Linked DNA regions of Homo sapiens: region 1 is linked to region 2. Evidence: fine-mapped expression QTL. A gene starts in region 2. The other region holds a variant in brackets. All regions are shown on one strand. Distances are from middle to middle. Region 1 overlaps MXD1 (MAX dimerization protein 1). Region 2 holds the start of MXD1 (MAX dimerization protein 1).

Evidence for each region.
Region 1: its variant is fine-mapped to the expression of MXD1 in whole blood (TOPMed, PIP above 0.99).

What each region holds. Positions count from the first base shown.
Region 1 is chr2:69,937,467-69,952,656 of GRCh38, forward strand. It overlaps MXD1 (MAX dimerization protein 1), which reads left to right. Exons shown (of 6, transcript NM_002357.4): 6 at 631-5,479. The coding sequence ends at 818. It also overlaps a transcript of ASPRV1 not described here. Among named protein-coding and RNA genes, the nearest start is that of ASPRV1, 17 kb to the right of the region's middle. RefSeq lists enhancers at 1-378, 9,017-10,216. The variant A/G (reference allele first, on the strand shown) is at 7,868.
Region 2 is chr2:69,907,146-69,922,335 of GRCh38, forward strand. MXD1 (MAX dimerization protein 1) reads left to right here and starts at 7,964. Exons shown (of 6, transcript NM_002357.4): 1 at 7,964-8,258; 2 at 8,976-9,075; 3 at 14,591-14,620. The coding sequence starts at 8,186. LOC124906176 (small nucleolar RNA U13) reads left to right here and starts at 5,550; the gene lies at 5,550-5,654. RefSeq lists enhancers at 7,128-7,177, 7,190-7,795, 7,278-7,387, 7,488-7,687 and a silencer at 8,338-8,567.

The sequences.
Region 1 (15,190 bases), 30 kb after region 2:
ACAGGAGGCAGAGTGTAAGAAGAACTAAGACACTGGGTATGATGTAGAGAAGTCGAACAGTGTGACCTCCAGTGACAGGTTCCTTCTCCCTGCTAACACTTAGGTGACAACCCCAGAAGAGTTTGATTGGTGTCAGTTTTCAGCCTAGTTTGTTTTGTTTTGTTTTGAGACGGAATCTTGCTCTGTCACCCAGGCTGGAGTGCAGTGGTGTGATCTTGGCTCACTGCAACCTCCGCCTCCCGGGTTCAAGCGATTCCCCTGCCTAAGCCTCCCAAGCAGCTGGGATTACAGGCACACACCACAATGCCTGGCAAATTTTCCTATTTTTGTAGAGATGAGGTTTCACCATATTGGCCAGGCTGGTCTCGAACTCCTGACCTCAAGTAATTCACCCACCTTGGCCTCCCAAAGTGCTGGGATTACAGGCGTGAGCCACCACACCCAGCCAAATTTTTGTATTAGTAGAAACAGGGTTTCACTGTGTTGGCCCAGCTGGTCTCAAACTCCTAACCTCAAGTGATCCACCCGCCTTTGCCTCCCAAAGTGCTGGGATTACAAGCATGAGCCACCACGCCTGAGCTTTCTGCAGAGCGCTTTCATCAATGTCCTTCTCTCTTGTCCTCCCTGCAGAAGAAATCGACGTTGACGTGGAGAGCACGGACTATCTCACAGGTGATCTGGACTGGAGCAGCAGCAGTGTGAGCGACTCTGACGAGCGGGGCAGCATGCAGAGCCTCGGCAGTGATGAGGGCTATTCCAGCACCAGCATCAAGAGAATAAAGCTGCAGGACAGTCACAAGGCGTGTCTTGGTCTCTAAGAGAGTGGGCACTGCGGCTGTCTCCTTGAAGGTTCTCCCTGTTGGTTCTGATTAGGTAACGTATTGGACCTGCCCACAACTCCCTTGCACGTAAACTTCAGTGTCCCACCTTGACCAAAATCAGCTTTGTAACTGTTTTCAAGGAGGTGCTTAGGATTGTGGGTTTCTGATTGCATCCACTAGCTTCTCTTTTTCTCGCCATAAAAATTTGTCTCTGAGAGACTATACATTCCAATCAATTTGAAGCATCCAAGAATTCTTAGACCGAATAAGCAATGTCCACATCTCAGCAATCCCCCTCTTTGCTCTCCTCGTGTCCTCTCCCAGACCTTTCTTCCAGTTTTCTGGCTTACTGTGTTACTTGCCTAGGAGGAATGTCCAAGTGTGTCTTGTACTTAGGAAACTGAAGGAAACAAACTTTTGAAATTGAGATCCTGATCTCAGAACTCCAAAGTAAGCTTTGAAAGCAGCATTTAAGAGCACTTAACCATGGACCTCACCACCAGTGAGGAAGTCAGGAATACCTCTAGAAAACACGCCCTTCACACCGCGCATGCTCATTCCCCCGACGCGCCGCGTGTGGATGGGAGCAGTATTTCTCACTTTAAAATGGACACCTTGATAGTGTGTCTCTGGGGTTGCACAGCTCATCAAAGTTCCAAATTGTTTGTTCTCACAAACAAAACGGTACAATCTATTTTTGTGCGATGTTCTTGGGACCTCGCTGTGTTCTGCTATCTCGAGGCACATTCTCCCCTCCAACTTTGTTAATGCTACTTGTCTCTGGAACATTTTTTTTTCCTACCTCAGAGATAAATGAGATCTCCATTTCCCACTTAACACAGTGATTATCCTTTTTTCCCCCCCCAAAATAGTGACATTTGGTCCAATTATAATCTATTTTCCTATTGAACTTTCAGCAATAACTGAGCTGTGGCACTAGCAGAGCTAGTAGCCATTATCAGTGAAAGAAAAAGTCCACATTTCTACTCTCTGTTGCAGGTGAACAGGAGAGGATGGTACACTGTTACTAGAACTCCTCTCCTTATTGATTATTTTTGGACACACCCAGAAACTTCTTTATGGAGGCTTTTGGGTTGATAGTTTAAAAGGCTGATTTTTCTTTTTGGTTATGATTTCTCCCTTAAGTGGTCTCCGACTTTGTAGCATTTTTATTTAAGCTAAAACAGAGCACATGTATATGTACATAAGACACATTAAATCTATAAATACTATTTATTCATTTTATATAAACTAATGTAATGGAAAACAAATTCTTATGACTTTGTGGTTTTATAGATGTTCTAGAAACTTTGTATGTAGGTATCTACAAAATTAGTTCATTCCCCTGAATATTTTTGCATTCATATTTTTGAGGTCTTGATGTTTTCAGCCTCTGGCGAATCTTTTTCATTGAATTTGAACCATTTGTAAAATCTGTGATGCTGAAGCAGAGTGTGTCACAAAGTGATGAGAACATTACTAAAATCCACGGACGCACTGCGACCTAAGGGCTCAACGGCTGACTCGGCAGCGGGCAGCCACCCCACGCTCCCCTGCGGTCACTCGCACACCACAGCCTGAAGCTCCCCCAGCGCCTGCACCTCGCACACAGCTAAGGTCAAAGTTCAAACGCACTCCACACGGAAGCTCATTCTATACCCGAAGAGCAGTCTCAGAAAGCAAGATTACTTTTGTGTTTTTTAAAAAATGATTCTTTAATGTATTTTTCTAAACATTCTGATTGGAAGTAGTGGATTCCTAAATGATTCCAAAGTCACCTGTAATTCTTCTGTTTTTGTTTTGTTCTGTCTTTTCTTCATTTTGGCTTTGGGTGGGGGGAGGGGCAGGTGACACAAAGGATTTTTTTTTTTTTTTTTTAATTTTTGGAATCTTTTCCAATAACCAGCTAAAGATTTGCACTGAAATACAACTTGTATGCCTTTTGCATTTTTAAAGCCTGCTTCCTGGATTTAAGCAGAGTGATAGTGTTCAAAGAGCCAGTTCAGCCTGTAACATATTTGAAAAAGATATGTCTGCACTTTGAGGTCCCTTTTGAATGCCATTCACTAGACCTCTCAAGCATTTTGTTTCATTGCTACATCCAAGCGCCTCACAAGTCCACAATGCGGGACAGCATCAAAAGCTCAAGACTTTGGAAAAAGCTTGTGGGCTTGCACTGGGGGAGGGAAGGGAACAAAATTTGTGTACTTCTTTGTTTAATTTAGAAATAAGGCATCCAAGAGATGCCATTATTTTCTGTGTTTCAATTGTTGTGCCTTTGAGTTAAACTGCATTTTTGTCTTTTGGTTGAAATCTGAAATGTACTGTCCCAATATAAAACAGTAATTATTTGACCTTTGCACTGTTTGTCTGGTCCTTTTCAGTTTGATTGCATATAAATGTGGAACTTGATAGATCTCTATATTTTTAATGCACTTGTGATAAACTGGCAGCAGGGTTAGACATTACTTTCAAAGCTTGAGGTAGACCGAGTCAGCATGCTAGACAGGCTTCTCTCTCTAACCAAAACTGTAATCTTCAGGACCAGCAAACTCAGCCCAAGGCAGCTAATCCCCCCAACCCCATCCTCCGCGCCCCGTGCGGCTGATCGGCAGCCCTGATTCGCCAATTTGTCCTCTCTCATTCACTGATCCACCAGCCTGACTGCTAAGAGCTATAGTCTTTTTAGTTGTTTTGTCTTTTTAAGCAAGATGAAAACCTTTCTATTAGGGATTTTGGGGTTGGGAGGGGATGGGCAGAGATATAAACCCCAGCCTTTAAGACTTTGACAATTGTACGTAAATACAGATGTGTATAAATATAGGCACATGCATATTTTTATGTGAAAGTTGATTTTAAAAAACTAAAAAAATCTAAACTGCACTCTTATTGATACCATCATAACGCAAGTGGGAAAAATAAGAGTACGCAGTCTAATTTAATTTCATGCAGTGGGAAAATATATATGTGTGCTTCTGTAACATCCTGAAAACATAGCTTTCCATCCCCTGTTGGCTTTGAATGGTGGGCCGAGCACCCAGGTCGTCTGTATTTTGGTTTTCTTTTGCTAAGCAGAGATCTTGAATTCTTCAAGGTGCTGATAGCAACTGCTGGCTCCTTTCTGTAGTCACACACCTAATGCTAGTTTAGTGATTCAAAATGCATCACATTTTTAGGCAGGACCTAGATTTTCCCTGTCAACCTAAGATGAAAATAATTTCAGTGTTGATTCAGAACTGAACATTAAGTAGGCCCTCGTCCTGCAGTTGGCCACTTGAGTGTTTTGTTTTGTTTTTATTTTTTAAGGTGGGCATTTTCCTTTAACCTCTACTTTTTCAAAAGCAACAAAGGGGCCTCAACCTGAGTTTCCTATGGGCCTCTCTTCTGCATCCCCAAAGCGGCCAAGAGCAAATCCTGGGGGATAAGAAAAAAGTGTAAACTAGGTAGGATTGTGATGCTCAAAATAACCATCTAGCAATATCTTGGAGCTTGAGAATAGATTTTGTGGGCTTATTTCTTCTTGCCTCTTCCCCATCCTTTCAAGAGAGAACTTATTTTTGAAAAGTATCTATATATACACACACACACACACACACACATATTATTATTTAGGTTTTTATACCATACTGTATTGGCGAGAATACCACTATCATTGTCCTTTACAGTCTATTTCTTCCCCCAAGTCTTGGTCTTTTTTTATTTTCTATTTTTTCATGAACCACACAGGAGACTTTAACATCCTGGTCTTTTCTGTTTCTTCTTTGTTTCCCCAAGTTTGTCTGTCCCCCTTTGCCTTCCCTGAGTGTTGAACATCAGGTAGTAAAAGGCTAAACGCAATTTCTTGCATGTCAATCTATTCTTTTTCTATGTTTGACTCTGATGCAGTGTGTTTAGCGTGTCTAGTAGCTGGCTACTCCTATTTAAAAACTCTTCCTGGTAGAAGACAACCCAAAGACCCTTTTCGATGAGGTGGTTTCTCATTCTACATCCTCTGATCTCTATAGACTGTAGGATGCTTTGCTTTCAAAGATAACTGGGTTAGAGGGTGGGGTGTGCAATAGGTGATTTATCATGGTTTTTTTCATTATCAATATTACATGGATGATTTTCTCAGATTCTTCTGAAAGAAGAAATTGACAGGCACTGCTAGATTCAGCTATTGAATGGCTGAAGAGATTGAGTATTTGACCTTCTCTCAAAATCATAAAGTGAGAATTCATAAGGCACCCAATGTTAAGATTTATCCAGATTTTTACATTTTGATTTCTTCTCTCTGTGGGGTGGCAAGTTGAGGGAGCATTCTTCATTTTAGCTTTTACCTGACAACCAAACTTGCCTTTACCCCATCCCTAGAATTGGTGCTCTTGGAATATTGCTGTTACCATCATTTTTGGGGGGCCATCTTCCTAATGCTACACACAGCCTGACAGGGGAGCAGCAGATGAAAGGGTATGCTATTCTGTTTCCAGATGTTTCTTTATGTAAATATGACGCCAATGTAAATCCTGTGTCAAGATCATAGAGAATGGTGCTTTTTACTACAGTTAGCACATGCATTTTTAGAAACTACTACATGTTTTAGAGAATCTTTGCTGTGTATATGTAAACTGTATTGTTCAACTGTTAACAAATAATAAATTATTTCATTATTAAAGAAATTTTGGTCTTTCTGATGTTTTGTATCACAATTTACCCTTTCGTGGTTGTCCTTGCAGAACTGCGTTCATCAGATTTCTTTTTTTCTTTTAATTTAAGGGAAACTTCACTAGCTAAAAGTTTTCAGCCCTTGGAGCCTGTGATGAGGATTGAGATTGTGTGGCTCCAGTTGAGCCCATTTGTTGATCAGAATTAGCCACAGTCCCACCCTCTCCACTGCCCCATCATCCCACCTACTGGTTTCACCTGCTCGTTGACTCATTCTTGGCTGACTTGCCCTTTGTTTTGGGTGCCTCTAATGATGCAGGCTGTAAGCACTGCCAAGACTTCTGCATCTTTTGAGCAGCCTGTAGCCTGCTGGGAAAGATATGCACACAATTTAATGCAGTGTAATTAGTTGTGGAATAAAGTTGTGTGGGAAAGCTCCATGAGAAGTTAGAGGTGGTGCATTCGAGCTGGGCCCTGGAGGAGGAGTGAGTGTTTGCTGGGAAAGGAGCATTGCTGGGAAGGAGAACATCCAGGGCAGTGAGGCAGGTGCTCAGGCAGAGTCCAGCTTCGTGGGGCTGCGGTGTGGCCTGGACCTGGGGCATGTCAAAGGAAAGACCTTGTGGATTGCACAACTCACTGAGAGGAGAGAGGCATTGGCTGAGGATGTCCGTTCCTTTACATACTAACCCATCTGGTTAGTATACATTTATTCATTCACTGAACAAATACGGCTTGAGTACCTGCTCCATATCAGGCTCCGTCCTAGAGGTGAGGACACATCTAAGAACAGCACACAAACCCCTGCCTCATGCTGCCACCTTTCCAGCGTGAGTCTCATTGGCGCTCAAGTCCTCATCATGGCAAGTTCGCCAAGTGCAGTCTGTCTTCCTGTTTTTGTTACACCAGGAGAGCACTTTTTCGGAGTCAAGAGGAGGAAAAAGTTGTCTTTCTCCTTGTTGACCAATGACTTCTTGTTCTAAAAACCACCTAAAATTTTTGAAAGGTTTTTAAGTTAACTGCATTGGCATTCTGCCTGCAGGTCTGATGAAAAAGGAACTTCCTGGTACTTCTACTTTGGAAAGTGGCCTGCCTTGTCTGCTTTCTCCAAAGAGTAGGGGTGGCAGCTGGGCCCTTTTAGGATGTGAGATTCTAGGATCCATCACTGTGGACAAGCCCCAAATGGAACCCACCTAATAGTGCATTGGTCACAACCTCAACAAAAGCTACGTTCTCTAAAGCATCAGGATCCCTTGTTTACTGTGGTTGCGGAGAGGAAGCTTTGAACTGTAGATAATTAGAAAGACAGCTTTCACATAAAATAGCCTCCCCCACAAGATGACAAATCTTATTTCCGAAGTTTCCTGACTTGTTCACAGTAGCTGGATGAAAAAATGTCACTTGTTATGCTGTATGGGCCCATGTCATAACGAGGGTCAGCCCACATTTACTGAGTGCTAAGGGCTGGGTGCGCCACTGCAGGGCCTCCGTGAACCTTCACATTGGCCCCGGGAGGGGAGCGCTAGCATTATCCAAACTTCACAGGTAAGGAAGCTGAGGGAGAGAGAAGTGAGGCATTTTGCCCCAAACCCACAGAGCTAGTGAGGGGTGGGACTGGAAGCGTCAGCAGCCGGGCTGCTGAGCCCCACACTCCCTTGCCCCAATTTTTGCAAGAGCTGTGCCAAATTGTCATCAGTCTTCCATATACGGCATCTTTTCCTTTTTAAGCCTTTGAACGAGGCTACCTATTTTCTTTGGAGGGGACCTTATATTCCAGACAGTGGAGCAGAAAAATGGGAATTCACAATACAATTACTAGGCCATGGCTGTCCTCTCAATCTCAACTTCCCTCTGTGCCTATTGTGAAGAAGGACCCCCCCTCCTCTACTGCTGATCCTCCTGGGGATCTAGTGGGAATAAACCAGCATGCTCTCAAAGGAAGACACTCTCTCTATCCCATGTCGTCTTGGTGGCGAACCCCGTGACATCACTTATTTATTCAACCAGTATTTACCGTACATGACTTCTACTTAGGCCCTGGAGTCCCCATTACCCAGTGCAGCTTTGACTCACCTCTTCGATGTCACTATGACCTAGATGAGGAGGGCCACACCAAGGCTCTCTGCCAAGAGACTATGGAAGGCCCATTGCCCACTTAGGCCTTCCCATCAATAAAGGACACGTAGGCCTGTCGTCCCAGCTGCTCTGGAGGCTGAGATGGGAGGATGGGCGCCCAGGAGGTCGAAGCTTCTTTGAGCTATGATTGTACCACTACACTCCAGCCTGGGCGACAGAGAGAGACCCTGTCTCAAAAAACTAAAACTAGAAAAACAAACCCTCGTAATCTGCACATGCACCCCCTGAATCTAAAATAAAAGTTGGAATTATTTTAAAATATATATAAA[A/G]GTAAAGGACATTCAGCTTCCAGTGGCCAAGGGTCCCACAGGCAGGGTCTCTGCAGGAAGTATTGTTCAGGGCTCAGCCCAAACTGGGTGGCGAGGCAGCTCCCTGCCCACTCTGTTCCATGCAGAATTCTGGAGTCATTGCCTCTGCGAGTGTCCTTGTGGAGACTAGATGAGGTAGATGTGGCTGCTGGCTGCTGGCTGGGTTGAACATGTTGCCCAGAGGAAAGGGAAGCTTTGTGTTGGGACAGAGTGACTAACCCACTTTCAGGCAGACGGCAGGGCAGGCTCTAACTGGCTGAAGCTTCCGGGAGCCTCCCCGGCTGTGGGTGAAGGCAGCGTGTCTGGTGAAGGCAGGCTAGGGATGTAATGGGACAGGCGAACCATCTTATCCAAAGGGATGACCACAGGAAGAGCCAGGACGGAGGCCAAGGGCATGCACCTGAGGCCAGGTCTGAGCGGGTGGACTGGGGGTATTGGAGCTAGAGAGGCCCACTCAGGCCCTGGAGAAAAGGGCAGGGGCTTTTCTAGGATGCTCTTGGCCTTGCCTGGGGGCAGAGGTGAGGAAGACAGTCAACGCAGGGAGCTCTGTGTCAGAAATACGTCTGCCTTCAAAGAAAGCAGCCATCCTGGAGGAGAAGGCACCTGGGAGGGCCTTAGGGATAGGGGAAAGAGAGAAAGGCACTGGCCAACCAACACCATTGGCCAGCCAGACAGCCGGGCTGGGTGACACCTGGAGATAGCCCCCAGCCATGCACAGGGACCAGTGGGCGTGGGAGAACCAGTATCTGTTTAGTTACAAGCAGAACATCCAACACACTCGCCTTGCCACGCTGATACTGTCATCCCCCAGAAGGCGGAAAAAACCATTGCTGTGAAGCATTCGAGCCAGTAATGACCAACAGAGACCAATAGGCTGGCCAAGTGGAAATAGAAACTCAGGGGGAGTGCCCATGTCCCCTAGGTACCCCGGAAGGTGGTCCTGGGTGATGGTCACGTGCACAGACTCTGGTCAAATGGAGCTAAGGGTCGATGCCAACTCCACCCTTAACACCCTCGGTGACCCCAGGCAAGTATCTGGGACTCTGCTGACCCGGTCTGTAGAGTGAGGATAATAACAGCATGTACTTCCCAGGGCTGCTAGGGGGATTAAGTAAGGTAAAGTATGCAAACAGCTTTTCCCCATGCCTGACATGCAGAAAGCATTCAGTACATATGAGCAATTATAATCATTTTCCCAGCCAAGGAGAGAACGTTCGAACACTGTCTGGCATGTGACTTGGATTTTCAGAATACAAAATTCCAACACTCAGAGAAGAAATAAGCTTGGAAGGGAAAATTACATTAGAGGGTGGGGAAGTGTTCAAATATGTCATTCTGACTGTGCTGTTTAGACAACAAACAGTAGGCAGGAAGTGGTTAAACCGAAAGGGGGAGCAGAGGGTGACTCAGGGACAGAATGTGGGCATTGACAGTGGAGGGGTGGCTATTTTCCAGGTAGTATCTCACCTATGTGCTGTTCGGAAGGTCAAAACGACCCTAAGACCCCGCCAGCCCTACAGGGCAGTTCCTCTCATAGAGAGACCAGATCATACAGAGGTGGCTCAGAGAGAGAGACAGAGGGAAGCCCTTGCTAAAATGCCCATATGTTGCAAGTATCTCATCAGAAGAGGCCAAATGACTTCAGTTCCCGCATTCACACGTACCTTTGCACTGCAAATTCAGAACAACCGTAGGTAGAGCTCTACCCAGACGGGGACAACTCCACACTTCAAGTATGACCTCTGAGCAACTGCAGAGGTTGTGATGATTCTTGGCTACTTTGCAGTTAATAACTTTGGTCAAAGAAGCTACCAGTCAATGCAGACTAGCACAGGGCATGGAACAGTGTGTGGCCCAGAAGAGGTATCAGTGGAAGAGTAAAGAGATAATCAGGATGGAACCTGGCCCTGCTTTCTTGTCACCACACTTTATAATGTTAGGGAAAAGTATTCTTTTGGAACTCATTGCAGCAATCCCATTGCTTTCCCCTGAAAAACAGGTGTGTTTACCTCAGGGAAACAGTGAATCATGCAACAGATCATCTTTCTCTTCTCCCTTTGGCTGTCAGGAAACTCAGAGCCAAATTCACACTTCACCTTTAGTAATTTTGTGAGAACCTGTAATGTGCATGTTTGTGACCCAGTTTCCCCTTAGTCTCTTCTCTGGCCTTGGCTTTTACTCAACATCTTTCCTATTTTAGTATTTGTAATTTTGGAAGTTACTTCCGATCCACCTTTGTAGAGAACAAGAGGATACTGCCATGCGGAATCACAGTGTAAAATAAAAAATGCTTTTGCAAGCAGACGGAAGTGAGGTTGACTAAGCAGGAGTGAGGTTATTGGGGTCAAGGGTGTGGAGAGGGAAGGTGAATGTGAGGGGTTTTTGGTTTTTTTGTTTGTTTGTTTGGTTATGGAAACAAACTTGCCAAGGACTAGGAGGGTGGTGCCCCAGGGCTGGAAATAATCCCTCCTGTCTAGAAGAACTGGGGCTCCTTTGGGGATATCCGCAGAGGCCAGAGGCAGTGGCAGTGCTGACCTGGGTCTGATTCCCCTGCCAGAAACAGGAAGGAATGCCACCCTTTCTCCTCAACTGGAGAAAGTTCGTTGGATTGCAAGTAAATGAGAATAGTGGTTCTATGGAACTAGCTTTGAATCGGATGTTACAGATTTTTTAGGAGTAAGCCAGAGAGACAGAGGGAGACCCCGTCTCTCAAAAAAAAAAAAAAATTAGCCGAGGTAGTGGCCTGTGCCTGTGGTCCCAGCTACCTGGGAGGCTGAGGCAGGAGAATTGCTTGAGCCCAGGGAGGTGGAGGCTGCAGTGAGTCACGATTGCACCACCGCACTCCAGCCCGGGCCACAGAGTGAGACCCTGTCTCAAACAAACAATCAAAATTAATCGCTTGCAAATTTCAGTATTTTATTACACCATCCTCGGCCCCACCAAGGTTTGATTAGCAGAGACAGGTCACGGCAGGAAGCTGTCCAGCGGCATGAAGGGGACACTGTCCTCAGCCTGTTCCACTCAACGTCAATACATCCATTTGCAGTCGGGTATGGATGGCACATTCTCTACATCTAGGGATGACCCCGTGGTTGCCAGATGGCACTGAGGGCCTGACAGAACCAGGATCCAAAAGTGCTTGACAGGCCGCAGTGGGGGCAGCTTGGACCAGATGCCTTTAGGAGGGATCAGTGGAGGCTCCGGGCTGGCTGGGAAGGCTTGCAGCCACGGAGGGCGGTGCTGAATACCGCAGCTCGCCCTGGAGGAAAGGGGGCTGGCTGCTCCTACAGAGTGGAGCCCTTTGGTCTCAGGAAGAGGCCCCGAGGGAGGGGGCTGCCCTGCCTCCGGGGCCACCGGACCCCACGGAAGCCTCCGAGGTCCTCTCCCTGTCTCCCGCTCTGCCCACGCCCCCCGCCTCCCCTGTAAATCCTGCCCTCCCGCGAATGCCGTCCGGCTGACAGCACTCAGGCCTCCCCCGCGGCGGGTCCCCACCTGATCAGGCCCTGTCTACACCCCACCCCTCTCCTCACTCTTCCCTGGACACCTGGGGGCCCCCACTTGGGGAGCCTGCCTGGCCGCTCCCCCCGGCACCTCGCGGCGGACTGCGCTTCACTCAGGTCTCAGTGCAAACGTCCCCGTGTCCTTGAGGACCCCCGACTCCACCTGTATAAAATCGCAGCTCCCTGGTCACTTTCTATCCGCTGTCCGCGCAGTGATGCATTTCACTTTCTCTTATCACCACATGACACCTTGTATTTTACCTGCTTGATGTTCACACGGACCTCTGCCGGAGCAGACCCTGCAGGCCCCCTGCGGCTCTGACCCAATGCCCAGGACCATGCCTGTGTGTGCTCAGCGATGGCCACTTGGGGATGGATGGGCGAATGAATGAATGAATGAATGAATGAATGAATGAACGAATGAACGAACGAATTAACACTTTTTAAGAGAGACAGAGGAGAACTTTAGGCTCAGAGCTAAGGCAGGACAAGAGTCTCCAGTATCATATGGCCCCAAGCAGAGGTGATGAAACACAGCCAGTGAGGTTTTTACTAATCACTGGCCTTGATCACCATCGGAATTGTACAGTACAGTGAGGGCCACAGAAAATACCCGGGTTTTGGAAAAATCCAGGTGACTGGTTCAAAAACAAAAGCAATTGGACAGAAAACAATTTGGTTGAGAACAAGCTGCAGAGGAAACAATTCAGCCCAAAGGACAATTTGGTCTAAAAGTATACTCCACATTATTTTTCAAAAATTAGAATTTTAATGCAGCATGAAGGTGAATTGCATCGTTTTGTGCCTTTTCAAGTATTTTGCTTACATTTCGGCATATTTAGTTTTACCCTGGGCTTTAAATTTCTAGTTAATTTTTTAGTTAACTATTTTCATTCTGTTCATTTTTAATGTTTTTTATCATGATTTGGCACATGCATATGTATTTGTTTGTTTGTTTCTTGAGACAGAGTCTCACTCTTTCGTCCAGGCTGGAGTGCAATGGCACGATCTCAGCTCACTGCAACCTCCGCCTCCCGGGTTCAAGCGATTCTCTTGCCTCAGCCTCCCGAGTAGCTGGGATTACAGGCGTCTGCCACCGTACCAAGCTAATTTTTGTATTTTTAGTAGGGATGGGGTTTCACTATATTGGCCAGGCTGGTCTCGAACTCCTGACCTCAGGTGATCCACCTGCCTCAGCCTCCCAAAGTGCTAGGATTACAGGCATGAGCCACTACACCCGGCCAGCACATATAGATGTAAAAGTGCATAAAACATAAAGGTGCTGTTTAATAGTTATTATAAAGTAAGCACCCAAAAAAACACAACTGGTGAAGAGCCAGGACATCACTGGCCCCCAGGTACACCTGAGTGTCCTTCCCAACACAGCACCCTTTTTAGCCCTGAAGGACACAGCCACCCTGCTGCTGGGGTAACCGTGTCCTTTTTGCCTTTGTCCTCTTGCCTCCTAAGAATGCATCTCTAAGCCTGGGCTTTAGGTTTGACAATCTGTTTGAGAATACTACACAAATGAAATCATATTGTGTATGTTTTGTGTCTGACTTCTTTCATTCAACACTGTGACGTTCGTTTTTCTTGTGTGGTTGCAGTACATTCCTTTTCATTACCATACTGTGAGGTTTATAACAGCAAAATGTTGGAAACAATCTAAATGTTAAAAAATAGGGGAGGCTGGGCGCAGTGGCTCACCCCTGTAATCTCAGCACTTTGGGAGGCCAAGGCGGGTGGATCACTTGAGGTCAGGGGTTCCAGACCAGCCTGGCCAACATGGTGAAAACCTCGCCTCTACTAAACACACAAAAATTAGCCAGGCATGGTGGCTGGCGCCTGTAGTCCCAGCTATTCTGGAGGCTGAGGCTGGAGAATCACTTGAATCCAGGAGGTGGAGTTTGCAGTGAGCTGAGATCACATCACTGCACTCCAGCATGGGCAACAGAGTGGGACTCTGTCTCAAAAATAAATAAATAAATAAATAAATAAATAAATAAATAAATAAATAATAAAAAATAAAATAGGGGATTGGTTTAGTAAAGTATGAAAGTTTACAAAACAGAAATTACCATGTAATCCTATTTTTGTTAAAAGGAAAGAAAGAAAAGGCAAGAACGAGAGAGTGAAAGAGAAAGAATGAAAGAAAATACATTCATATGAGTGTATATAGAGAAAGGTCTGGAAAAATACACCGTGTTTGACCTAAGCAGGGTAAGTGGGTTCAAGGTTCTTATATATGTATATAAAATATGCGAGTGTGTGGCCCAGGCGCAGTGGCTCATGCCTGTAATCCCAGCACTTTGGGAGGCTGAGGCAGGCAGATCGCGAGGTCAAGAGATCGAGACCATCCTGGCCAACTTGGTGAAACCCCGTCTCTACTAAAAATACAAAAATTAGCTGGGCATGGTGGCAGGTGCCTGTAGTCCCAGCTACTTGGGAGGCTGAGACAGGAGAATCACTTGAACCCGGGAGGCGGAGCTTGCAGTGAGCCGAGATCACGCCACTGCACTCCAGCCTGGGCAACAGAGCAAGACTCCATCTCAAAAAAAAAAAAAAAAAAAGTGAGTGTGTGTGTGTGTGTGTGTGTGTGTGTGTGTGTGTGTATATCTATATGTATATTTATATATATAGATCTATACACACACACTCATATCATATATATACACATACATATCATATATATATCTATATATAAACATATATATAGATAGATAGATATGATATGTAGCTCTAGATATAGACTGACCAACGTTTCTGCTTTTCCCGCAAGCCTCACTCATTGCTTTTGCAATTAAAAAAAATACTAAAGGAATTTGAACCATGAAAGAATAAACAAAGCAATAAAAATGAACAATCAAAAAAGAGGATTTGGAGTTTTAGGGGGGTTTTAGGGGTTTTTTCTCTCCTAGTTTATTTTCAGCCAATTATGTCTCCTCTACTTACTTGATGATTTTTTTGGTGAGTTTTTTATTTTCATAAATTGATTTTTAGAATGAATATTTCCAACCACAGTTAACTGTTTTTGAGTTTTGTTAATAACTTATACACTGCTTAGCTAACAAAGACCTAGTTGTTGGTTACTTCAGCTTTTCAAATTCATTTTCACCCACTTGCCTTGCTCTGTTTATAATAGATTAAAACAACCTAAATTCATTTTAATAAAATCTTTGTTTGACCAAACTGTTCCAGCTAACTAAATTGAGTGCTCCAAAGTCAAGCCGGCTTAAATTCCAATCTCAGTTCAGCCACTTACCATTTACACAACACTGGGCAAATTAACCTCTCCCAATCTCAATTCCCCCATCTACTAAATGGGTATAAAACCTACTTTGTAGATGTTTTGTGAGAATTAGAAAGAAATTGCCTGGCCGGGTGCAGTGGCTCACTCCTGTAATCCCAACACTTTGGGCGGGAGAATTGCTTGAGCCCAGGATTTTGAGCAATATGGCAAAACCCCGTCTCTACAAAAAATACAAAAATTAGGCATGGTGGCCCACATCTATAGTCCCAGCTACCAGGAGGCTGAGATGAGGGGATTGCTTGAGCCTGGGAGGTCTAGGCCACAATGAGCTGTGATCGTGACACTGCACTCCAGCCTGGCACGACACAGCAAGATCCTGTAAGAAAAGAAAAAGAAAAAGAAAGGAAAAGAAAAGAAAAGGGAAGGGAAAGGAAGAAAAGAAAAGAAAAAAGAAAAGGGAAGGGAAGAAAAGAAAAGAAAAAGAAAAGGAGAAAAGGAAATGAAAAGAGAAAAGAGATTGCCACATAAGCAAGC
Region 2 (15,190 bases):
GCACGAGCCTCCATGCCTGGCCTACTTAGTTCTTTGAAAGCTTTCCTGGCACGTTAGTTCCCTGTAAAGAAAATAATAATGATAATGACTGCATTGCATGCTACAGGGTGCAGAGCACCTTGATTCACTTAATCCTTATGAGATAAATAGAGCAGGTACTACCATCTCCCATTTCCCAGATGAGAAAGCTAATGCTATTCAGCATAAAGGCAGAAACTCTTGATGTTTATTCTACCTACTGCCTTCAATGTTTAAGTATTTGAATGTTGTACAGCTTTGAAGTACCCATTGCACAACTGTCACCACTCTAGGCATTTGGATTGTTTTGCTTGGACTTTTTGCCAGCTGAGCTAAATAGTTCCCCATGCCTCTACCCACCAAAATACTATATATCTGTAAATAATCCATCATAAGGACTGTTTCTATTTTTGTGTATACCTAAGAAAAGCAGACCTAATTGTTGTCTTAATAGTGAAGCCAAATCTTCTAGGATAAAATAATATACTCCAAACCAAAGTACTGCCTTATCATTTTATTGGTGTTGTGTTACTAGAGATTTGACTTGAAGTCCTTAAGGCAGCATACTTTGCAGATAAATAATCTGAGAGAATCTGGTAGGTCAACAGATCTGCTGTCTGTGAGCTAACACTAAAGAAATAGAAGAAGAGGAAATCTTTGAAAAATCGAGAAAAGATACCTTTGATCCCAAAAGTCTTGGTTTGAAGGAACTTTTTATCCATTAGATCATCTAATTCTGGAAGAATAACCAAAGTGCAGCATCCTTGTATTCTTCCTCTAAGAGGCTCATCCTCATAGGGGATGTAAATTGAGCCAAGTTTTCTAAGTGTCTAAATGTTAAGTGCTCCAGGGCTCAGTCCTTGGACTCTCTAGTCTCTTCTTTGGTGAAGTGTCCATTTGTGTGGCTTCAAACACCTTCTGCCATCTCTCTCAAATTTATACTCTTCCTGTCGGACCATTTTACTGAACTACAGTCATGTATATGCAACTAGACTATTAGGCACCTCAAATTTAAGATTAACTGAACAGAACTCTGCCCAGTCTTCTTTTTTGGGGCTTTCCCATCATAGTAAATGGCCCTTTCATTCACTCCTTTGCTCAGACCATGGTCCTTGGGGCCATCTTTGACTCTTTTATTTTATGCCTTACATCTGATTCATTAGCAGATTATTTTGGCTTTAACGTCAGAGTACATTTTGAATTTGACCACTTTTCACCACCTGTGCTAACCTAAGCCATCTCTCTTGCCTGGACTACTGCAGTAGCCTCCTAACAAGTCTTCCTCCTTCCACTCTTGCTGCCTGTTTATTCTCCATCCAGTATCAGAGAGGAACCTTTTGAAATGTACATCAAGGCTGGGCGCAGTGGCTCCTGCCTATAATCCCAGCTCTTTGTGAGGCTGAGGCCAGCGGATCACTTGAGGTCAGGAGTTTGAGACCAGTTTGGCCAATGTGGTGAAACTCCATCTCTACTAAATATTCAAAAATTAGCTGGACGTGGTGGCATGCACCTGTAATCCCAGCTACTCGGGTGGCTGGGGCAGGAGTTTTGCTTGAAATCTGGAGGCGGAGGCTGCAGTGAGCCAAGATCTCACCACTACATTCCAGCCTGGGCAACAGAGCGAGATTTTGTCTCTAAATTAATTAATTAATTAAATGTGCAACTAGTCATATTGCTCCTGGCTCCAGTGATTTTTTTAAATCATTTAGAATAAAGTCCAGTCCTCAGTGTGGTCTACAGGGCCTCCATATGACCTAGACCCTGGCTTTCTACAGCCTCACTCTTGCTCACTGCACTGAGCTACACTGGCCGGCCTCCTTGCTGTTCTTTCAAAACAGGCTTGTGTCTACTCCCAGAGTCTTCTCACTTGCTCTTTCTTCCTTCTGGAATGTTCCCCCACCTCCCCGATTTGCACGAGTAGCTTCTTTACATTGTTCAGATCTCTGCTCAAACTAAGGTCATTCCTGATCACCCTATCCAAAATAGGAAACTTTCTTCCCTGTCTCTGTACTCTGCTTTACTCTTTTTTTTTTTAACATTTAAAAAGTTGAGATAAAATTTATATGCCATAAAATTTACCCTTCTAAAGCTTACAATTCAGTGGTTTTTAATATACTCAGAGTTATGCATCCATCATTCCTAATTCCAGAATGTTTTCATAACCCCAGAAAGAAACCTCATATCCATTAATAATCACTCCTCATCCCCCTACCCCTAGAATCCACTAATGTACTTCCTGTCTCTACAGATGTACCTATTTTGAACATTTCATATAAATGGAATAATACAACATGTAGCCTTTTGTGTCTGGCTTCTCTCATTTAGCATAATGTTTTCAAAGTTCCTCTGTGTTGTAGCATGTATCAGTACATCCATCATTCTTTTTTGTCTGCAAATAATATTCCATTCTATAGTTATACCACATTTTTGTTTATAATTCATCAGTTGATGGGCATGTGAGTTGTTTTCACTTATTGACTATTAAGAAATAATGGTGCCATGGCTGGGTGTGGTGGCTTATGCCAGTAATCCCAGCACTTTGGGAGGCCGAGGTGGGCAGATCACTTGAGGTCAGGAGTTCAAGACCAGCCTGGCCAACATAGTGAAACCCTGTCTCTACTAAAAATACAAAAATTAGCCAGACATGGTGGCGTGTGCCTGTAATCCCAGCTACTTGCGAGGCTGAGGCAGGAGAATTGCTTGAACCCAGGAGGCGGAGGTTGCAGTAAGCAGAGATTGCACCATTGCACTCCAGCCTGGGTGACAGAGTGAGACTCCATCTCAGAAAAAAGAAAGAAAGAAAGAATGGTGCCAGAACATTTGTATACAAGTTTTTGTATGAACATGTTTTCAGTTCTCTTGGGAGTATGCTTAGGAGTGGAATTACCAAGTCATGGAAACTATGTTTAACTTAAACATAAAGCACTGTCAAACTGTCTTTCAAAGCTGCTGCACTATTTTACAGTCCCATCCACAATATATGAGGGTTCCAGTTTCTCCGTGTGGCTCTCCAAGCCCTCCTTTACTTGTCTTCACCGCATTTATCACTGCCTGACATACCCTATATTCTTTTATTACGTCTGGTTCTTCTATTAGACAGTGAGCTCGGAGAAGTGGGGGATCTCTTTGGTTAGCTCTGCAGCCCCAGCACCACACAGTGGCTGGCACAGAGTGCAACGCTCAACCCATGTCTTGAATTTGTGAATATAGTTCTGTAACCTTTTTTCACTAACCTAGTCCCTTGATCTTCATTTTACATCTGATTACCTTTAGTTACCCAAGTACTTTATTTTGTATTTAACTTGCATTCAAAAAACAGGATCTCAGTTCTTCCTTCTTGTAAAGTAAGAAAATCTTATTTATGATATATGCAGTTGACTTATCTTGCCTCAACAGAAGAAAAGTTAAATATTACATTTTTTTCTTTTAGGAAATATCATTTGTGGCAAGCGTCTTTCTTGTAACAGTCTTAAAACATCGTGACAAAGCTAAACTCCTTTCGAACAGTACTCAGAATGATATTGCCCATTCTTTCTGCTAATCCTTTGCTTTGTATCTTTTGTCCATGCCTGTATGTATATAGCAGAGTAGGAAATTGGGAAAATACATAGTTTGGGCCTTTAAAAAGAAAATGCTGTAAGGGTTATTTTACAATCTATTTACTCAACACTGTGCCTTAGGGATCTTTTCTTGACAGTATATATAAATCTACCTTTTAAAAAGCTGCTGCATAGTGTTTTGTGTGATATACATATGACAATTTAGCCATTGCCTTTTTGTTTGTTTGTTTGTTTACCTGCTCTGGCTGGAGTGCTGTGTGGTGCAATTATGCTCACTGGAGCATCAACTTCCTGGGCTCAAGCAGTCCTCTTGCTTCAGCCTCCCAAGTAGCTGGGACTACAGGCTGCACCACCACACCCAGCTAATTTATTTTTTGAGTAGAGGTGAGTTCTCACTATGTTGCCCAGTCTGGTCTCAAACTCCTGAGCTCAAGTGATCCTCCCATTTCAGCCTCCCAAAGTGTTGAGATTACAGGCATGAGCCACGGCCCCTGGCTGTTGCCTCATTTTCTAAATCACAGATTTGTAGAGTGACTAATTTTTGCAAAACAGTGTTTTTAAAGGTTTTTAAAATTTAATATTATGATGTTAGGTATCATATTAGTGTGTCCAAAATAGCCACAAAGAAAGAGATGATACTGTTGAACCAGAAACTTGAAATCCTGATTTATCTGCTTCGAGGAACAAAATCAATTCCTCAAAACCTTATAAGACAAAATATATTTTAATGTCATAGTAGTTAGGAGGTATCAAACTCAGTTATAAATAGGGGGCTTTAATTCCCATAGTGATAGAACTTTTTAGGCACTTCAGGATTATAATACGGTAACAGTTTTCTTCCCTGCCACTCTGGGGTGCTCTCTGAAGCGGCATCTCCGGCAGAGAACTCCATAGTGTGTGATGAGCCTGCTGCTTGCTCAGTATTGGCATTTACCTCTTAATATACTGTCCTATGCCCATCTGGAGTATAAGCCTCCCAGAGGAGACTGGGCAGAGATTAACTTGGCAGTAAAGATTATCTGACAAGTCTAATATTTTATGTCTTTGTAATTCCCCATTTTCAAGTATATATCTCAATTAGTTTATCTTGATATGTGCTCAAAGATATAAACTATTGTCATCCCATGTTTATGCTATTACACATAACTTTTTATTTAAAGTTCTGGTCATAAAATTCTGGTTCAAACATTCTAGAATTCCCAGCTTCTATTTCTGGAGCTGTGACTCTCAGTCAGTCAATGCTTAGGCCATGCCTTTGAGGCACTAGGTATTGAAAGTCACCACTTCTTCATTATCTTAGGATTCTCAGTTCTTTCTTCAAAACTTATACTTTCAGGTTTTCTTAATTAACTGGTCATTCCATACATCTGTGTAAAATAATTTCTAGGAAAACTCCGAATCTCAAAACCTTTGTTTTATACTTACTACTTCATTTCCAGTAGATGGCACCAAACACCCTTTGAAGGTCTTCATTATACTAATCCCTAGTTGGTGTTGCTGGCTAATTGATAATTTCATCCACCACCAAGGAACGAACATGGTCTATTCTTCAGCTGATTCTCTAATTTTTATATAATGTAGTATTTTTGTTTGGAGTCTAAGCTAGACTTGTTGGCATTTAAATTATTTGCTGTTTCTGGCTCAGATTTCAACCTTTTTTCCCCCTTTTTAAGACAAAAATAAGTGTGACTTTCTGGTCAGGGTGATTGTAGAGGAAGGGTCATGATACTGAAATAGGACTTGGTTAAAATAAAGAGTTGAGAGTAAGAGACTAAAGACATATGCCAAATGTTTGTAATAAAATTAAAGAGAAAATATAAATATATACAAAATCCAAAATGTCAGGATAATGAAATCAAAGCATTTTTAGTATTATCACTTTGGGTACTTTAGTAGAATTGCACTCGTTTATGATTTTGAAGTTTGTTTTACAAATAACATCCAATTTAAAAATACTCTTTTAAAACTTAGATCCTTTTATAGTTCATAAACATAGTAATTAGGTGTTCCCATTGCATGTATGAGATGTGCCTCCCAAAGAGCTTGTTACAGCGTTAGTACATTACCTGTCTGATATGGAGAAAAAAAACTGTTATATTTCTACCTTCATTTCCAACTTTGTATTGTGCTTTGAAAACCTTTACCTTCAGTATGTGTATTTCATTAGTATTTTCATAAAGAATCAGTTTTTAGATCCAGTTAACCACTGAAACCAGAATATGCCTATATGTCAGGCATGATTTACTACATGTTTATTCTATTTATTGAGTTGATTTAATTTTAGTGGGTTTGTGGACATTAAAAAATACATGTTTAATATTTCCCACCATAATTACATTTACACCTTTGTCTTTCTTTTTCTTCAGTACTTGAGTTGTCAGTGTTTTGTGACTCAGTCTGGAAATCTGTTTAAACCACCTTGTCTTTATACAACTACCAACAGGAGGATTGGTAATTTGGGCTCTGGGTGAGACATACATAGGTTCAGTTTCCATGTCTGCAGCTGAATGCATGACAGGGAAAATCATTTAGCCTCCCTGGGCCTCAGTTTCTTCACGTGCAAAATGTAATTAACACAACCTACCTCATGGGGTTATATTGAGGATTAGAGATAATGTAGGTAGGATACCTACACATAGTAAGCTATTATATATTGGCAACAATAATAAACTTTTAAAAAAAGAAATATGTTCATGCTTTACTCATTTGTATTTTGGGGACTCAACCTACCAAGAACTTTATTTCTACTTTTAAAATTGGAGATGTCTGTCAGTACATTGGCAGTGTAGCTTGGTTTGCCAGATAGCTTTCATTTCAAAAATTTTAATAGGTTTAGGGACCGATCTTTAACCTTTTTAGTTCTGTATACGTAACATTCTATTAAGCATTTATATTGGTACCACCCCATGCGGAAACACACAATTTGCAGACGTCTTAAAGAGTATTCTTGGCCGGGTGCGGTGGCTCACGCCTGTAATCCCAGCACTTTGGGAGGCTGAGGTGGGTGGATCACCTGAGGTCAAGAGTTCGAGACCAGCCTGGCCAACATGGTGAAACCCCGTCTCTACTAAAAATACAAAAATTAGCCGGGCGTGGTGGTGGGCACCTGTAATCCCAGCTACTCAGAAGGTTGAGGCAGGAGAATCGCTTGAACCCGGGAGAAGGAGGTTGCAGTGAGCCGAGATCGCGCCATTGCACTCCAGCCTGGGCGACAAGAGCAAAACTCCCTTTCAAAACAAACAAACAAAAACAATAATCTTGTGAGTGTTTTCATCTAGAATTAAAAGGGAGGGGAAAACCCCAAAAGAGATTTAAGCAAAGAATCTTAGGGTTTAATGCCATTCTGTAGGTTCAGGAAGTCTCTGAGCTTTAAAAAGCCGCTCGCGTGAAAGTAATTAATTATTCCATCACTTCCCGGGGGTGGAGGGGGGTGCGGAAAAGGCGCATGAGCTCAATGCTGTATACTGCAGCCCGATTCCAGCTCTTTCTTGAGGGCAGAAAAAACGCCGAGCGGCGAGCATTTAACAACGGCCGGCTTTTCTTCTCAAGCCCCGCAGCAGCCACGTGGCGCCTGCCCTAGCTCCCGGCTCACCGGCCACTAGCCTGCACCGCTCTTCGGGAGGATTCGAGGCTGGGCCCTCGCCAGCCCGAGTTCCGCGAAGCCCAGAACCTCCAGGGCCGCGGCCACCAGACCGAGGGCTCCGGCCCCGAACCCAAGCGGGGCAGAGCGCCCAGGCGACACGAGGTGCCAGCCTTCCATTCGATGGACGCCTGGCAGGTCCCCGGAAGTTTTCCCCGGGGACAGGTCTTGGCAACAGGTCCGAGGCAAGGCCGGGTGGAGCAGAGCTCCGCAGCGGCTGGTGAATCAGCGCCGCCCAGCGCCGGACCGGCCCTCCCAGCCAATGCCAGACCCGGTGAGGAGCAGCCAGGCTGCTGACCATCAGCCACTTAGGGCTCGCCTGGCCTGGAGAAAGGTGACATCATCGTAGCTGGGAGGTTTCCGAAGGCTTCACCAATGGGAGACCGGCGAGGTGCTTGCCTTCTGCAGCTCTTGGCCAATACTAACAAAGCAAAAGGGGGCCCGGGTTGTTGGTATAGAACCAATGGGAAACAAGGAAGGAGCACGAGGCGGAGTTGCGAATCCTGTCACCAGTTGGAAAGAGGGGGTGGAGCCCGGGCCTTGTCAAGTGTGACCAACCAGCGAGAGGAGCGGACTTTGCGGGGTGGAGCCCTGAAGCCCTCTCCCAATCGCACAAGTGTAGGGGCGGGGCATTCTTTGGGGGGCCCAATGAGGAACGCGGCCGAAGCTGGCCTGTCAAGAGAAGGGGCTGGGGGCGGGGAGATGGTGAGTCGGGGATAAACACTCCGCGGCGGTGGCGGCTGCTGCTCTGCTCCGGGTTCTGTCACTGTGTCGGCGGTGCCCAGCTCACTGGCCCCCTCCCTCTCTTGTCGAGCGTGGTTGCCAGAGAGGCTCCCTCAGCCCTGCTCCGCGGGGTCCACAGCGGGCTCCACAGCGGGCTCCATAGCGGGCTCCACAGCGGTCCGGCGGCGGCAGCGAGCCCGTGGGCAGTGGGGGTTGGTCCCGTGGCTCCGGCCCCCGGTGCAGAATGGCGGCGGCGGTTCGGATGAACATCCAGATGCTGCTGGAGGCGGCCGACTATCTGGAGCGGCGGGAGAGAGGTGCACGGGGACGGGGAGGGGTCCACTCGAAACGAGGCCGGGGGTCCTGTGGGGCCGGCCTCAGGTCCGGGCGCCCAGCCGCTCCGGGGGTGGTTGGAGGCGGGGAGACCGCGAGCGCTCCCAACCCCTCTGGCTCTCCCCACGCGCGGTCCGAAGGGAAGCCGCCGCTGCCCCAAAGCAATGAATGGGGTGGAGAAGGGGCTGCCGCCCGCCGGGGTCCCGAACGCCGCCCCTTCCCCAGCCCTTCACGAGTGGGTGGCCGGGGCCCCCTCCGATAGCCTCCCTGGTTTACCTCACCCGGGCTGGTCCCGGCCGGCCCCCAGGTGGGCCCGGCGCCCCAGTCTCCTGGGCAGAGGAGCAGCGCCTCCCGGTCCCCGGCTCACGGTGCTTGCCCCGCACCTTCGCCTGAGCTGGTTCCACTTAACCCGCACCAACCTGCTGGATGTAGCCAGTGGGAAACCCAGGCTGCGTGAGCCTAGCCACTACTGTGTCTTTCTCAACAATGAGCAGCTGGAATCCTCCTTACACCTGCTCCGAATTGACGATATTCACACAATTTTTTTTTAAATCATTGTTCTCAGAATTCCACCTTACTCCATTTAATTATTTCCACAATATTCTTTTAAAGATAAATAAAGGAAAAAGGAAATACTGTAGAGAGGAGAGAGCATTAAATATTCTGGGCCCATTCATTAACTGGATCCTCCTGTTTTCTAGAAGCTGAACATGGTTATGCCTCCATGTTACCATACAATAACAAGGACAGAGATGCCTTAAAACGGAGGAACAAATCCAAAAAGAATAACAGCAGTAGCAGGTAATTTGGTAAATACTTCTTTCTGTCTTTTAGATTATATTGTAGGTGACACAAACTGCTGAATGTAAGTTTTCTGTTGTGATTATAACCCTATAAAATTACATTGTGGCCGTCATGATTCAGTAATGTACACATGGACTTAAGCCATTGCAGGAAGCTGTTTCTGTTTGGGTTGAGGGAACTGAAAAGAAAAATAGAAATGTTTTACATTTCTTTATGAACTTTATTCAAAATTTAATTTCACTTTTCTTCCCTTTTGGAACAAAAAAATCTGTGGAAGCTTCAAGTGAGATTAGCAATGGTGACAGTATTTTCCCTTCAGAAGTTGCAGATTCAGGGCAAGTTTTCTATAAGTCAAAATGCTGGACATTATCCATTTCTTTTACTTTTCATAGTAATGATTTTATAAACACATTAAAGTACCTGACTTGGCATAAGTGATAGGATCTCATACTTGACATGTAAATTAAATACAGTGGTTTGTTTGATACTCTAATTTGTCATCTCTATTTGTAATGGCAAAGAGGAATGATTGAGGTTAAAACCTACCTCTTTAGTGATAGAGGAATATATAATACCAAAATATTAATATGCTACAACTTTTCCATGTTAGCCTTATCGATTATCTTATACCGTAGTTCTTAAAAGCTGTGAATCTCACTGGAGATTTGGTTCATGGTCAGTTAAATCACATATTAAAGTCCTATGCATAGTTTCTGGTACATGCAAATAGTCCATCAATGTTGCTGCCCGTTTCCCCCCTTCTTTGCCCTTAAAATATAGTTGGCTAGGAAATTTGTTCTATTAGATCCCTTCAACTATACCTTTCCTGCCAGTAAATTAAAAGCATTGACCTTTTCGTCACTAGTTTAGAATCCTTATCCCTCCCTCACCCTCATGAATAACTCCTTGCAAGTATCTATTTGGATATCCTCTGTGGCTTAATACAGACCAGGAATTTCCCACTTAAACCTAAAAATCACTTGTTCTTGCTGCGTCTTCTGTACTTGGTTTACCTCTTTAGTATCGTTAGTGGAACCACAGGATGTGAGCAGCATTACTTGTGCCATGCCCTTGAATAAAAATGGCACTTGAAGGATCAACCTGGTAATTACCTGGTAGGTTTTGCTTGTCCTCCCACCTTAGCATTACCTGAAGGTGGTAGCCAGTAGTTTTGTGCATGGGTATGAAGGCACTTTAAGAAAGATGTTAATACTGACTTGTAATATGCAATGGTGTAAAACCAATTAAGCTGTGTTGCATTTTGTTACAATATTTTTTTAATTTTGTTTAGAAGAATTTTGAGGCCTTTCAGTTAATTTTTCTGGAAAAGCATCATCCATTTTTGCTTTTATTATTGTCCACTAATGATTTGAGAGGAATTGTCCAAGTTACTTATTGAGGCTTAATACCTTAACACTTTGTTTTTTTCCTTAGTTTCACAGGAAGGTTGTAGGGGATGTTCACTAGTGGGGATAAGAAAATGAGATGTTGAAGTGGCTTGGTCCCAAAAGGTGATTAGGAAAGAAAAATAATAGTAGTTAAGAATCTTAAGCCAAGAAATGGATTCTTTCTAGTATCTTCTCTTTAATAATCAGTACTATGCCAAAAAAAAAAAAATAAAGGCTACAAATCCTTCTGTTAATGGGTTGGTTTGCTTTCCATGGTTAGAGACGGGATTATCACAGTTGTCCATACACCTGACTGATAGTGAGTTAGTGTAATATATTCAGTGGTGTAAGGATTTCTGAGAGACCATGATTAAACCTAGAGGTAGCACCAGCCAAACGTGTGAGGCAAGAGCAGGCAGTTTTCTTTCAGTGTGATCATTTCCTTCATGACTCATTTGGAATAGCTCCTTTTCTGAGGAACAAGCAATCATAATGGAGAAAGCAGCTTGACCCCATGGTTTGAATCGGCTTTATATCCTCAGCCATGTATGGTCAGAATTTTGAACTGAGGTAAAGGATAGGGAGAGATTACTGCTGGTTTACATAACCCTTGGATAACAGTTTATTCTTGTTCTTACAGGTTGAAATGCTGTGCTTTTTGCTTGTAGAGTCTAGGGAAGTACTTTTCCTTGGACAATAAAAGATAAGATTTTGCCACATAGGAAACTTCTTGGGAACTGAAAATGCAGATCTTATTCACGTTTCTCTAGTTGCTTATTAAAACAACAAAAATGAAAATGAAATTGTGAATATCAATTGTTTTTGAAATTATCCATAGAACTGCTGGAATATGGGAAGATGGAAGTTTCTTTCCTACTGATTTTTGAAGTCAATTACTAATTATTTAGAATTGAAATCTAGAACTTCTTAAAAGTGTGTTTTGTTCAATGAGTAAAGCAAGCTTTGGCACTCACGTGAAAGAGGAAGTTCAGGACTTGCCACCCAGTTGTTTTATAAGACAGTGGCTAGAGTGACCTGACATGAGGAGTGTTTTTGAACCCAAGAATTTTTCCTGGTTATCTCAGATACGCCGTAATTTGGCTTAGTTTTTTTTTATTAGAGTGTATTTTTAAATGGTGAAATTTGACCTTTATCAGTGATTCCAGAGTTATCCATTGTTTTCCATAATCACATGGAAAATAGTTTTGACACAAGGTATCAGTGTGTTCTTACAGTGCTTTAATTAAAAACGTAAATGTTTACCCATCAATGGAGGTGGCTGGCAGTCTCGGAACTGATCATTTTTGAAAGGGCTGCTTTTTATTAATAACTCAGTTTCAGTAAACTAGATGCACTTCAGTAATGCTCTAGCCATTAAGTACAAGTCCCCCTTTAAAAAGCACCATGTGTTTAACACTCGAGTAATCAAATAAAATCTGTAGTTTTAAAAATTTTGTTCAAATTTTGGAAGAAGTTGTGCTTCCTATGGAGTTTGTTTAAAAGTTTATTTTGGGGATTCAGAATTTTGCATAAGTATATAACTCTATTTATTAGTTTATATATTTTCAAAGAATCCAGAAATATTTTGGTAAGAATTTCCTGTGTGCTGTTATTTTCTACTCTCTTCTCAACCTATTCACTTTCCTCTCCTCCACCTACAAGGGGTGGTCCTTGTCTACAGTTAAAGAGGGTAATCTCAACCAACTGTTGGCATATACTTTCATCCATTTTATTTTATTTATTTATTTATTTTTAGACAGTCTCGCTCTGTTGCCTAAGCTAGAATGCAGTGGCACCATCTCGACTTACTACAACCTCTACCTCCTGGGTTCAAGTGATTCTCCTGCCTCAGCCTCCCGAGTAGCTGGGATTACAGGCGTATGTGACCATGCCTGGCTAATTTTTGTATTTTTAGTAAAGACGGGGTTTCGCCAGGTTAGCCAGGCTGGTCTCGAACTCCTGACCTCAAGTGATCCACCCACCTCAGCCTCCCAAAGTGCTGGGATCCCACTATGCCCATCTACTTTCATCCATTTAAAAAAATCTGTCAGGCTTTGAACTTACTAGTCCCGGTTAAAGTTAAAATGCCACGTGCTTTAGAGCCAAAGGTTTGCAGTATATGCCAGATTCTTGTTAACTATAGTATCCTGTTGGCCATTGAAGGCAATAAACCTTCAGAACAATGTGACTGGAGAATGCTGAGGGATAACCAAGTGAATCAGTGTAAAGCTTTTATTTCTTTTTAATTGAGATGGGCTCTTGCTGTGTTGCCCACACTGGTCTCCAACTCCTGAGCTCAAGCAATTCTCCTGCCTCAGCCTCCCAAAGTGCTGAGATTACAGGTCTGAGCCACCATGCCTGACCATTTTAAAGTTTTGTTTTGTTTTGTTTTGTTTTGTTTTGTTTTGTTTTGTTTTTGAGATGGAGTCTCCCTCTGTCGCTAGGCTGGAGTGCAGTGGCACGATCTCAGCTCACTGCAACCTCCAACTCCCTCGTTCAAGGGAGTAGCTGGGATTACAGGCACGCGCCACCACGCCCGGCTAATTTTTGTATTTTAGTAGAGACAGGGTTTCACCATGTTGGCCAGGATGGTCTCAATTTCCTGACCTCATGATCCGCCTGCCTCGGCCTCCCAAAGTGTTGGGCTTACAGATGTGAACCACTGCGCCTAGCCTGAAACTTTTAAGTTAACCAATTTTGGATTGGTTTGAATACATGAGGTCCATATATTGTTTACCTAGAAAACAAATATTCTAAACTTAAAATACTGTCATTTTCTCATTTATTTTTTCTTCGTGAATAAAAATTGATTCCTAAGATCCCTGTGAAAGAGAAGTTTAATGCTAGGTTGGAAATTTCTCATTTCAAGACAACCTCCTCACTTCCGCTGCCATCCCCCCACATTCACTCTCCTTACCCCCATTCTCTGATGAGTGAACTTGATGTTGGTGCCCCTGATGTAAATGAGTGGCTGAGCACTCTTGAGGTGGTATTCCTCCATGATTGCTGTGAGAATTTATTTCCTAAGCCCAGTAAGGTGCTGATTATGGCCCCACAGAATTCATGAGCTGAACCAGGGAGTAAACTCCTGAGCTGGTTAAATTCTAGAGAATTTTCATAGAAAGGTCAAGCAAGATTCAGCTCCTTTATAATACTGGTAGCTTCTTCCAAATTTATAACTGGTTAGGAAGGGGTTGTGTGAGGAGGACACTAAAGGGGCCACATTGACTTCTTATGACTTTATGGTAACTTGTCCATAAAGTCTTAGGCCAGACCTTGTCTTTAAGGTCAGCCATAAATACACTAATCATATGGTTTCATATCCATCACACCTTTCATCCAAGGCTCTCTAATCAGTTTTACAGCTGTTACCTCATTGGTCCATACTTGTTCAGTAAATAATTCGTAATTATTTTTATTCTCATTTTATAGACAGGTTAACCAGTAACAGGATGGTAAAGAATTTTATTCATTCCACAGTATATCAGTGGCAAAGCTGGACTTCACATTTCACTAACTTCTGCTTTAAGCAACCTATCATCTTTATATTGAGCTGAACTTTGGAAACCCCTTCCTAAAATCATTTGGTTGCTATTTAACAGTAGCATCTTGTACATGATAGTTACTTCAGGGAGTCAGAAGTTTGGGGAAGGGGGTTATTTTACTATTTAAAACAATATAGTCAAGCAACTTTACACAAAATTTTGGTGTATGCTACCCCTAGGGAAAACTGCAGGGGTGGGGTAGGGGTGCTACCTCCCCTGTTCTACCCTTAGCCTACAGAAAGCTTTGTCGTATTATATAACGCAAATTCACATTGCATCGTGCAGCTGTTTTTGTATAAATAGACCCCTTTTATTTCTTGTCTTAAAATGGATTATTTTTCCACTAGAGAAGGCATGCTTCTTGGTTTGTCGCTTTACCTTGAACTCTATTTTAGGATTTACATTTATCTAACTCTTCAAATGGACTAATTTTTTTAGTAGAGCCCAGTGAATTTTTCTGCCTTTCTACATCTCTCCTATCAACTTTGGAGAGAAAGAAGTTAAAAGAATTGTGTTGGTGTTGAAGTAGTTCTTTAAGACAAAAATATCTTATTCTTCTCTTATTGTTCCCTCTTTCAGATCAACTCACAATGAAATGGAGAAGAATAGGTGAGTTGGGGATTTGGGAGGTGGAATGCGGGGAGCTTTGTTGCATTCTCTGTTCATGCAGTTCAAACTTGGTTGCTCTTTTTGACTCTTCCCACTAGTAGCACCTGATTTCAGAATTCACCCAGCGCCCTCTAAGCAGCATCGCTCATAAATTACTTAGGTAGATGTAGAGCTTGCCAGTTAAAAGACCACACCCCTAACCCTCACCCGCACCAGCCCACTCCTGAAGAAGGCCTTTGAATGACTATTCCACAGACCAAAGCATTTTAGTCAGAGGCAACATTTCCACAAATAGTGTTTTTAAAAAAATTACATGCTACTGAATATCATTGGCAGTGTTATCTAAAATACATATACACAGATATATATACACATAATATACATGTAAGTATATATTAACACATGTGTATTAACGTGTATGTATGTGTATTTGCAGTTTACTTGTGAATGAAGAGTCTCAAAATTCAGGCAAATGTATGCATGGCAGAAATTGGAGATGGTGCCTAACTAGAGGAGGACTGCCACCCTCACTGGGCTCCATCTTGCCGCAGCCTGAGTGGAATCTCTCTC